Linked DNA regions of Homo sapiens. Changing the gene in region 1 together with any one later gene gives a genetic interaction. Each region holds a gene or a part of one and is shown on either strand. Other genes may lie near its edges.

Evidence for each region. A genetic interaction does not mean that the proteins touch.
Region 2: of POLR1B (region 1) and ATG10, changing one suppresses a phenotype caused by changing the other (phenotypic suppression), as found in Homo sapiens cells (one large-scale study listed by BioGRID).

The regions. Positions count from the first base shown.
Region 1 is NC_000002.12:112,569,768-112,573,585, reverse strand, and holds part of POLR1B (DNA-directed RNA polymerase I subunit RPA2), read right to left. Parts: intron 1,025-3,818; coding exon 828-1,024; intron 25-827; coding exon 1-24. UniProt on the Homo sapiens protein: Catalytic core component of RNA polymerase I (Pol I), a DNA-dependent RNA polymerase which synthesizes ribosomal RNA precursors using the four ribonucleoside triphosphates as substrates.
Region 2 is NC_000005.10:82,051,783-82,055,600, forward strand, and holds part of ATG10 (ubiquitin-like-conjugating enzyme ATG10), read left to right. Parts: intron 1-3,449; exon of another isoform or gene 3,450-3,552; intron 3,553-3,818. UniProt on the Homo sapiens protein: E2-like enzyme involved in autophagy. Acts as an E2-like enzyme that catalyzes the conjugation of ATG12 to ATG5. ATG12 conjugation to ATG5 is required for autophagy. Likely serves as an ATG5-recognition molecule. Not involved in ATG12 conjugation to ATG3.

The DNA of each region.
Region 1 (3,818 bases):
TTCCCAAGAGGCCTTATTCACAATCTGTGAAGTAAAAGAATCGTTAAAAGACTGAGGCCAATTGAGGATTTTCAAAATAAAACTAGGTGGGACTATCATACTTGGTTTAGGATAACTGGCATCACATTTTAACTTTCCTCACATTTTCCAAATCACTGATACTAACTACAAAAACCCAGACATGGCTGGGCACGGTGGCTCACGCCTGTAATTCCAGCACTTTGGGAGGCCAAGGCAGGTGGATCACTTGAGGTCAGGAGTTCGAGACCAGCCTGGCCAACATGGTGAAACCCCATCTCTACTAAAAACACGAAAATTAGCCAGGCATGGTGATGGGTGCCTGTAGTCCCAGCTATTCGAGAGGCTGAGGCAGGAGAACTGCTTGAACCCAGAAGGTGGAGGTTGCAGTGAGCCAAGATCGTGCCACTGCACTCCAGCCTGGGCAACAGAGCGAGACTCCGTCTCAAAAATAAAAAACAAAAAACAAACAAACAAAAAACAAGAAAAACAAAAACCCAGGCACACAGAAATAGCTTAAAATCTAATCATACTTAAATATAAAAGGTAGATAGATCCAAAACCAAACTTCAAAATTTACTCATAATATGCACTCAAATATGCAAGACATACGTGTATCTGAATATTTAGTGGATATTCCTCAAGGCTTGCCCACTTTCAACTTAGACTAAGAACTAATCATTTAATAGAACATCACGTGCCAAATACTAGGTACTTGGGTACACAAAAATATTCCTTCAGTGATTTCACAGTAAACAAACAAGTTAAAAAATAAAAAGATTGGAACAACATTTCCTGGTAAAACTTACCATGGCATCTTCCATATCATAGCCAGTGTAAGAAATCACAGCAACGATGGCATTGGTCCCAATTGGATAGTTATCCATGTCATAATAATCATACATGGAGGGTCTCACCAAGGGACTCTGAGGAGTCTGAAGACGATACAGTTTGTTATCCGATCGGTCTTGATAAGTGAGAAGTGGAAAGCCCATAGTTTGCTTACCTACATGGAGAAAAAACATCTTAGCATTTTCTGCTGCTTTCATCTTGATTATAGGTGTGATACGCAACACTGGAAACAACTAAATATCCATCAGAGGAAAATGAACAAATAAATAGTCATGGTAGTTATGCTTACTTTAGACTAATACATAAGCTGTGAAAATGAAGTAAACCTAAATGTATCAACGTGACCAGACCAGGAAAACCATGCTGAGTGGGAGAAAGTGCAGACTGACATTTAATATGATACGATTTATGTGTATTTGCAACACACCCCAAACAATTCTATACTTAGTTTATGGATACATGTATGATGTAATAAAAGCTTTAGAAGGGGACAGAAAGGAAGTACGCAAATTACAGGCTATCACTACTCGGGGAAGAAAAGGGGATAGGAATTATTACGTAATTAGATTACTTTCTTACAGCGGAATATGTATTTAATTCTAAGTAGTGGAGCATGGGGTGAGATTCCTCTGTGTACTACCTCACAGTACAGAGAATCATTTCACGACAAAATGATTTTAAAATATAAATACATACAAGTGAAATTTTTAAAAAAATTATAGACTTAGAGCTTCCAGTAATAAAGGGCTACTCTTACTAGACCACCCTCAACACATAAGTATGAGACGCAGACCCCCAACTACACATACAGCACTGGAGAGTAACCAAAAGCTGTCAGAAGCTGAGAAGAATTTTTACTTGGACAAAAGGAACACACTGGGTGAATTTCCAGGTTTTTAAGTATTTATGTATTTATTTTTGCCTTATGGCCCAGTGTGGCAGCTACAACTTAGATAGAAACCCACAATCTTACTGGCTTGAAGAACCAAGAAATAGAGTTCTGAGCATGACAACAATTGGGAAGGGGGAACATTTCAGAAATGAGAGAACCACAAAGGGAGACCCTTAAATTCAGCATATAAATTGGGTCCGAATCTTTGGTGGACTCCTGAACTATGCATGCATGGGACAGATCACAGCAGCCCACCTAAGGCTGAAGAATGTACTTCAACTGCCACGTTCACCAAGTTAAGTACCAGTGAAAACTAAAAACCAATCCTCTTCCCCTGGAGAATTTTTGGTGACATGCACTGAACCAGGTGATGGACTGTGTATTAAGAAGGAAAGACATAAAATGAAAAAAATTAAAATGTAATTGAAGGCCAAACACCACACTAAAAACAAACAAAACCAATCCTCTTCAGAGGACCCTAACAGGATCCAGGGTTTAAAACATACTCCTCGCAATGTTCATAATACAATCCGATATTACTGGGCATACAAAGAAATGGTGAAACTTGACTTATACTCAAAGAGACTGATACTAAGATGACCCAGACATTGGAATCTGCAGATAATGATTTTACAACACCCATCATATAAAACTATGTTCAAAATATAAAGGAAAACATGCCCACAATGAATGAAGATAAGAAATCTTAGAGAAGAAAGAAACTATAAAAAAAGAAACAAGTCAGGCCAGGCGCAATGGCTCATGCCTGTAATCCCAGCACTTTGGGAGGCTGAGGCAGGCAGATCATTTGAGGTCAGGAGTTTGAGACCAGCCTGGCCAACATGATAAAACCCTGCCTCTACTAAAAATACAAAAAATTAGCTGGGCATGGTGGCACATGCCTGTAATCTCAGCTACTCAGGAGGTAGAGGCAGGAAAATTGCTTGAACTGGGGAGGCAGAGGTTGCAGTGAGCCAAGATCGTGCCACTGCACTCCAGCCTGGGTGACAGAGCGATACCCTGTCTCAAAAAAAAAAAAAAGAAAAAAAAAAGAAACAAGTAGAAGTGCTGGACTTGAAAAATACAGGCATGCACTGCATAACAATGTTTTAGTCAATGCAGGATGGCATATATACTATGGTGATCCCATATTTTTACTGTACCTTTTCTATGTTTAGCTACACAAATCCTTGCCATTGTCTTACAACTGTAGACAGTACACAGTACAGTTACATGCCACCCAGGTTTGTAGCCTAGGAGCAACAGGCTATACCATATACTAGGTGTGTAGTAGTCTCTGCCATCTAGGTTTGTGTAAGTTCACTCTATGATGTTCACACTACGACAAAATCACATATGACTCACTTCTTCGAAGGTATCCCTGTCGTTAAGGGCACATGACTGTAAGCAAAAATTCAGTAGAAGACAGAATAAAAAGTGACTGTGATAATAGGTCAATAAAAATAATCCAATCTGGGCCAGGTGCAGTGGCTCACACCTGTAACCCCAGCATTTTGGGAGGCTGAGGCAGGCAGATCACTTCAGGTCAGGAGTTTGAGACCAGCCAGGCCAACATGGTGAAACCGTATCTCTACTAAAACACAAAAATTAGCTGGGCATGGTGGTGTGTGCCTGTAATCCCAGCTCCTCAGGAGGCTGAGGCAGGAGAATTTATTGAACATGGGAGGCAGAGGTTGCAGTGAGCCGAGATTGTACCACTGCACTCCAGTCTGGGCAACAAAGTGAGACTCCATCTCGGGAAAAAAAAAAAAAGATCCAATCTGAAGAAAATAAAGAAAAAAGAGAACAGAAACTCAATGTCTTATGGAACAATATCAAAAGGTTTAAATATATGAATAACTGATAGAAGAGGAGGAAAGAGAGAAAAGGATAGGAGCAATGTTTTTAAAAATAATGACAGAAGAGTTTAGCAATTTAATTAAACTGAAAAAAAACAAAATTTGAGGCCGGGCGCAGTGGCTCACGCCTGTAATACAGCACTTTGGGAGGCCAAAGTGGGCAGGTCACCTGAGGTCAGGAGTTCGAGACCAGCCTT
Region 2 (3,818 bases), on another chromosome or scaffold:
TAACAGTTCCTTGCCTACATTACTTACCTTTAACTTTAAAAAATGGATGGATATTGGTTTAATGTCCGACCTACCTAGTATAAACTTTTCTACTTAGCAGTAGTTTCTAGTTTCTTCTTTTTACCCCAAGGTTAATCAGTTTTGAACAGCTACTGATAGTATTGGTTTGATCTTCTACAGCAGCAAAGAACAGTCACTTGAGATCTGTGGCCTAGGTTTGACCTATTCCTCAGGGCTCCACTGACCTTGAAGGCCTTGTTTGATCAGTGCTGGCATTGACCTAGAAACTTCAGTTGTCTTCCTCCTTTATGGACTTGTCAAGCCCTTCCTGCAGTTGATCATTCTGGGCAGTTAACTTGAGTTGAAGTCGTATATAAAATGCCTTATTCTGAAGTAGAGCTTAGACCCTTAGATAACCACCCATTTTCTTTTAGATGTGTCTAGAGAAGATCTTGTTAAACTCAGCAACAAAAGCCCTATAATTATTTTGTTAGCTGGATTCCAGCAGGCATAACATAGCTTGCTGGGTGGCATAGCCCTATGACAGCTTGTACTAAAACAGACCCAAACGTGTTCTATCAGGAAATCCTTAGATCTCCATCCAAAATGCAATCGGCACTACACTAGAAAACTTGCTTGTCTCTCTTGGATTCTATAAGACCTATAGGACATTTTCTCCTTAGAAGTTTAAGATTGGAATCTACTCTGGCAATGTGGTGGCCTGGAGGCATATGTGCAAAGGGCAATTAATTATTTGTTTAAAATGAAGTGCCATGTATTTATAGGCACAAAAGAGGTTTTACATTAAAAAGTTAAGTCTCCTTTCTAACCCTTCTACTTTCCTTACTCAAACCTTTAGAGGTTGCCAGTGATACCATGGTCTTGGGTATCTTTCCGGATATATTCAGTGTACACATAGCCTGTACAGTTACATTTAAACATATGGTAGCATGCATATATTCATACTGTTCTGCGCTTTAAAAAATAACTTAATGGTCAGCCTTGGTCATTACTCAATATTTACAGAACTCATTCATTATTTTTGTGGTTACATACTATCCCATTATTTGGACATAAAATAATTTATTTAGCCAATCTTCACTGATGGAAATTTAGGTTGTTTCCAACCTTATACTATTAAAATAATATGTTAATAATCATTTGTATGAATTTTATTTACTACATATGTGACTATATCCATAAGGTAAATTATTAGAAGTAACATTTCTGGATCCAAGGTGTGTGCATTTTAAATTTTGATAGTTTTTGCCAACCTGCTCTTCAGGGATCTTATGCTAATTTTAACTCCCCTGCCCCAGCAATGTATGAGAGTGCCTGCTTGTTTTATCCATGTCTTTGTCTATACATTCCCTTTCATACTTTTTGATCTTTGCCAATCTGATAGGTAAAAAATGTTATCACAGTTTTTAATTTGCATTTTTCTTATGGCTAACATTGAACATATTTTTATCTACATGTATTTCCTCTTTAGTAAACTATCTGTGTATCCTTTGCTCATTTTCTTATTGGGCTATTGGACCCCTTCCTGTTGATTTGGTGGAACTATTTATATTTTGAGGAAATTAAAGCTATTTTATATTGAAAAAATTAGTTCTTTTCTATGATATGAGCTACAAATGCTTTTTCACATTTTGATATGTCTTTTGACTTTATGGTGTTAAGAATTCGTTGCATGCCGTAGAATTTACCAGTCTTTTATGACTTCTGGGTTTTTATCATATTAAAAAATATGTGTTCTCCTATATTTTCATCTAGCATATTTGGGGTTTTTTTCTCATTTAAATATTTCTTATTTTGGTCTTAGGTGAAGGGCATTCTATTTAGATAACTGGAAGAGTTTTGGCTGTGAGGAAGTATTCTCTTTATAATGAAAGTTGTTTGGGTTATAACAGCTGGACATTTCTTATTAATTATTCTTCTACAGTGACAGAGTGAAGCATCATGCTTTGTGGTGAATGGACAGCAAGGAGACCTAATAGCTGAAGTGTAGTTGGACTTGGAGCAATTTTAAGTTACAAGACTACTGGCAGTTTCAGAGGGCCAGGTCAAGACTGGCCAAGTTGCCAGAAATTAGTTTTTCGGGCAGTAGTAAAGACCACTTCAAAGGCAGTCTCAGCATGGTCAAAGCTCCAAGAAGAGAGCATTAACAGAGGTGATTTTAGCATTTGGAGAACTCCAGATGAGCTATGGTGTTCATGAAGATCTTGAGTTGTTTGTGGACTTCTCTCCTGAGGTAGCTGCAGATTACCTGATTGACTCTGTTCATTGAGTTCAAAAGAGGGTCTCCAAGGAATTGAGTGCAGTGGTTCTCAACTCTGGCTGCTGTGCTGGAATCTGCTAGGTAGATTCTGACTTAATTGGTCTGAGGTGAGACACCAGCAACAGTTTGAAAACTCCACAGGTGGTTCTAATGTGCAGCTTGGATTGAGAACCATTGTTAATGTAGTCAGTTTGCTGTCTCTTTGAGTCAGGGATTGCAGTACATGCCTCAGTGCTTCCAAAATGTGCATACATATCACCTGGGGATTATGTTTTAAATGCAGAATCAGGAGGTCTGGGGTGAGGCTTGAGATTCTGCCTGTCTGTCTTAATGAGCTCGCAGCTTATGCTGTGGCTGGTCCCCAGACCACACTTGAGTGGCTTGAGTTTGTTACTTGAAGTGCAAAGCACTGGCCCACACCAGTCCACGAGAGTCAATAAGCCATGGTCCTGCTCTCTTGCAGAATTTGCTTAGTGTACTACAAAGAATACTCAGGTCAAGAGATCCGCTTTCCACTTCCTGCTCTGCCTCCAACTAATTAGTGTAAGACAAGTTTCTTAGAAGTGCTTTAGTCCTTCACCCTCTTATCTCTAAAATGAGAGGCTTGAATTGGATAAACTTGAAGGTTCCCTTTGTTTTTAAATCCTCTCATGCTTGTCCAGGATGTTTTCAGACTCTTTCTGGATCAGGTTGTTATGTGGGATGGAATCTGGATCCTGTAAAGACCTTGTCATCCCTTAGAGGATGGAGGCCTAGGCCCTGAGCTTATGATCTAGTGGGAGAAATAAAACTAACAAATGTTAAAAAATTAAAGAAGAGTTAAATGTTCAAGTGTAAGCTATGATAAGTACAAAAAGAATGCAGGGAAGCTAGAGAGGAGTGTTAATTGGAATGGTCAGGAAAACTTCATTGCCAAGGGGGAATTTGAGTTGACATCGTTTTTTCCTGGGCTGGGTGGACTGCAGGGCTGACAAGAGTGGTGGTTCTCCTGCTTTTGAGTTTGCTTGTCTCTAAAAAAGCATCCTTCAACAGTGAAGCACAAAACATATTTTTCTGCCTTAAATTAAAACAAAGTAGAAGAAACATCTAGTTCTGTGGAAGTCTTTAAAGGGAAATCAAAATCCAAAAAACTCTATATTTAATTTTTCAAGGCTAATCTTGACTGAGAAGATTGATACTGAAAAAAAATCACCACTACCAAATATAGAGCAAAAAACCCAGCGTACTTCCGTATCGATAATAAAAAAATGGTATTAGAAATTACCTAAAATGTAAGTAAATTCCTCAAATTATAAGTATTATTGAAAGTGACATATCTCTTTATCTTAACTAATTGGGAAAGAGACCAGATAATTTATTTAGATTTTATAACATAGGTGCACACGAATTTTTGACTCACCTCTTTTAATGTCAAAGGAGATGTATTTTGCATTGTTATTAGAATTTTACTAAATTTTATGTTCCCTTAAGAGGAGGTTATGTGACCAGGGCTCAGGTATTGAAAAATACAAAATAGAGCAGTTACCCTCATTTAATG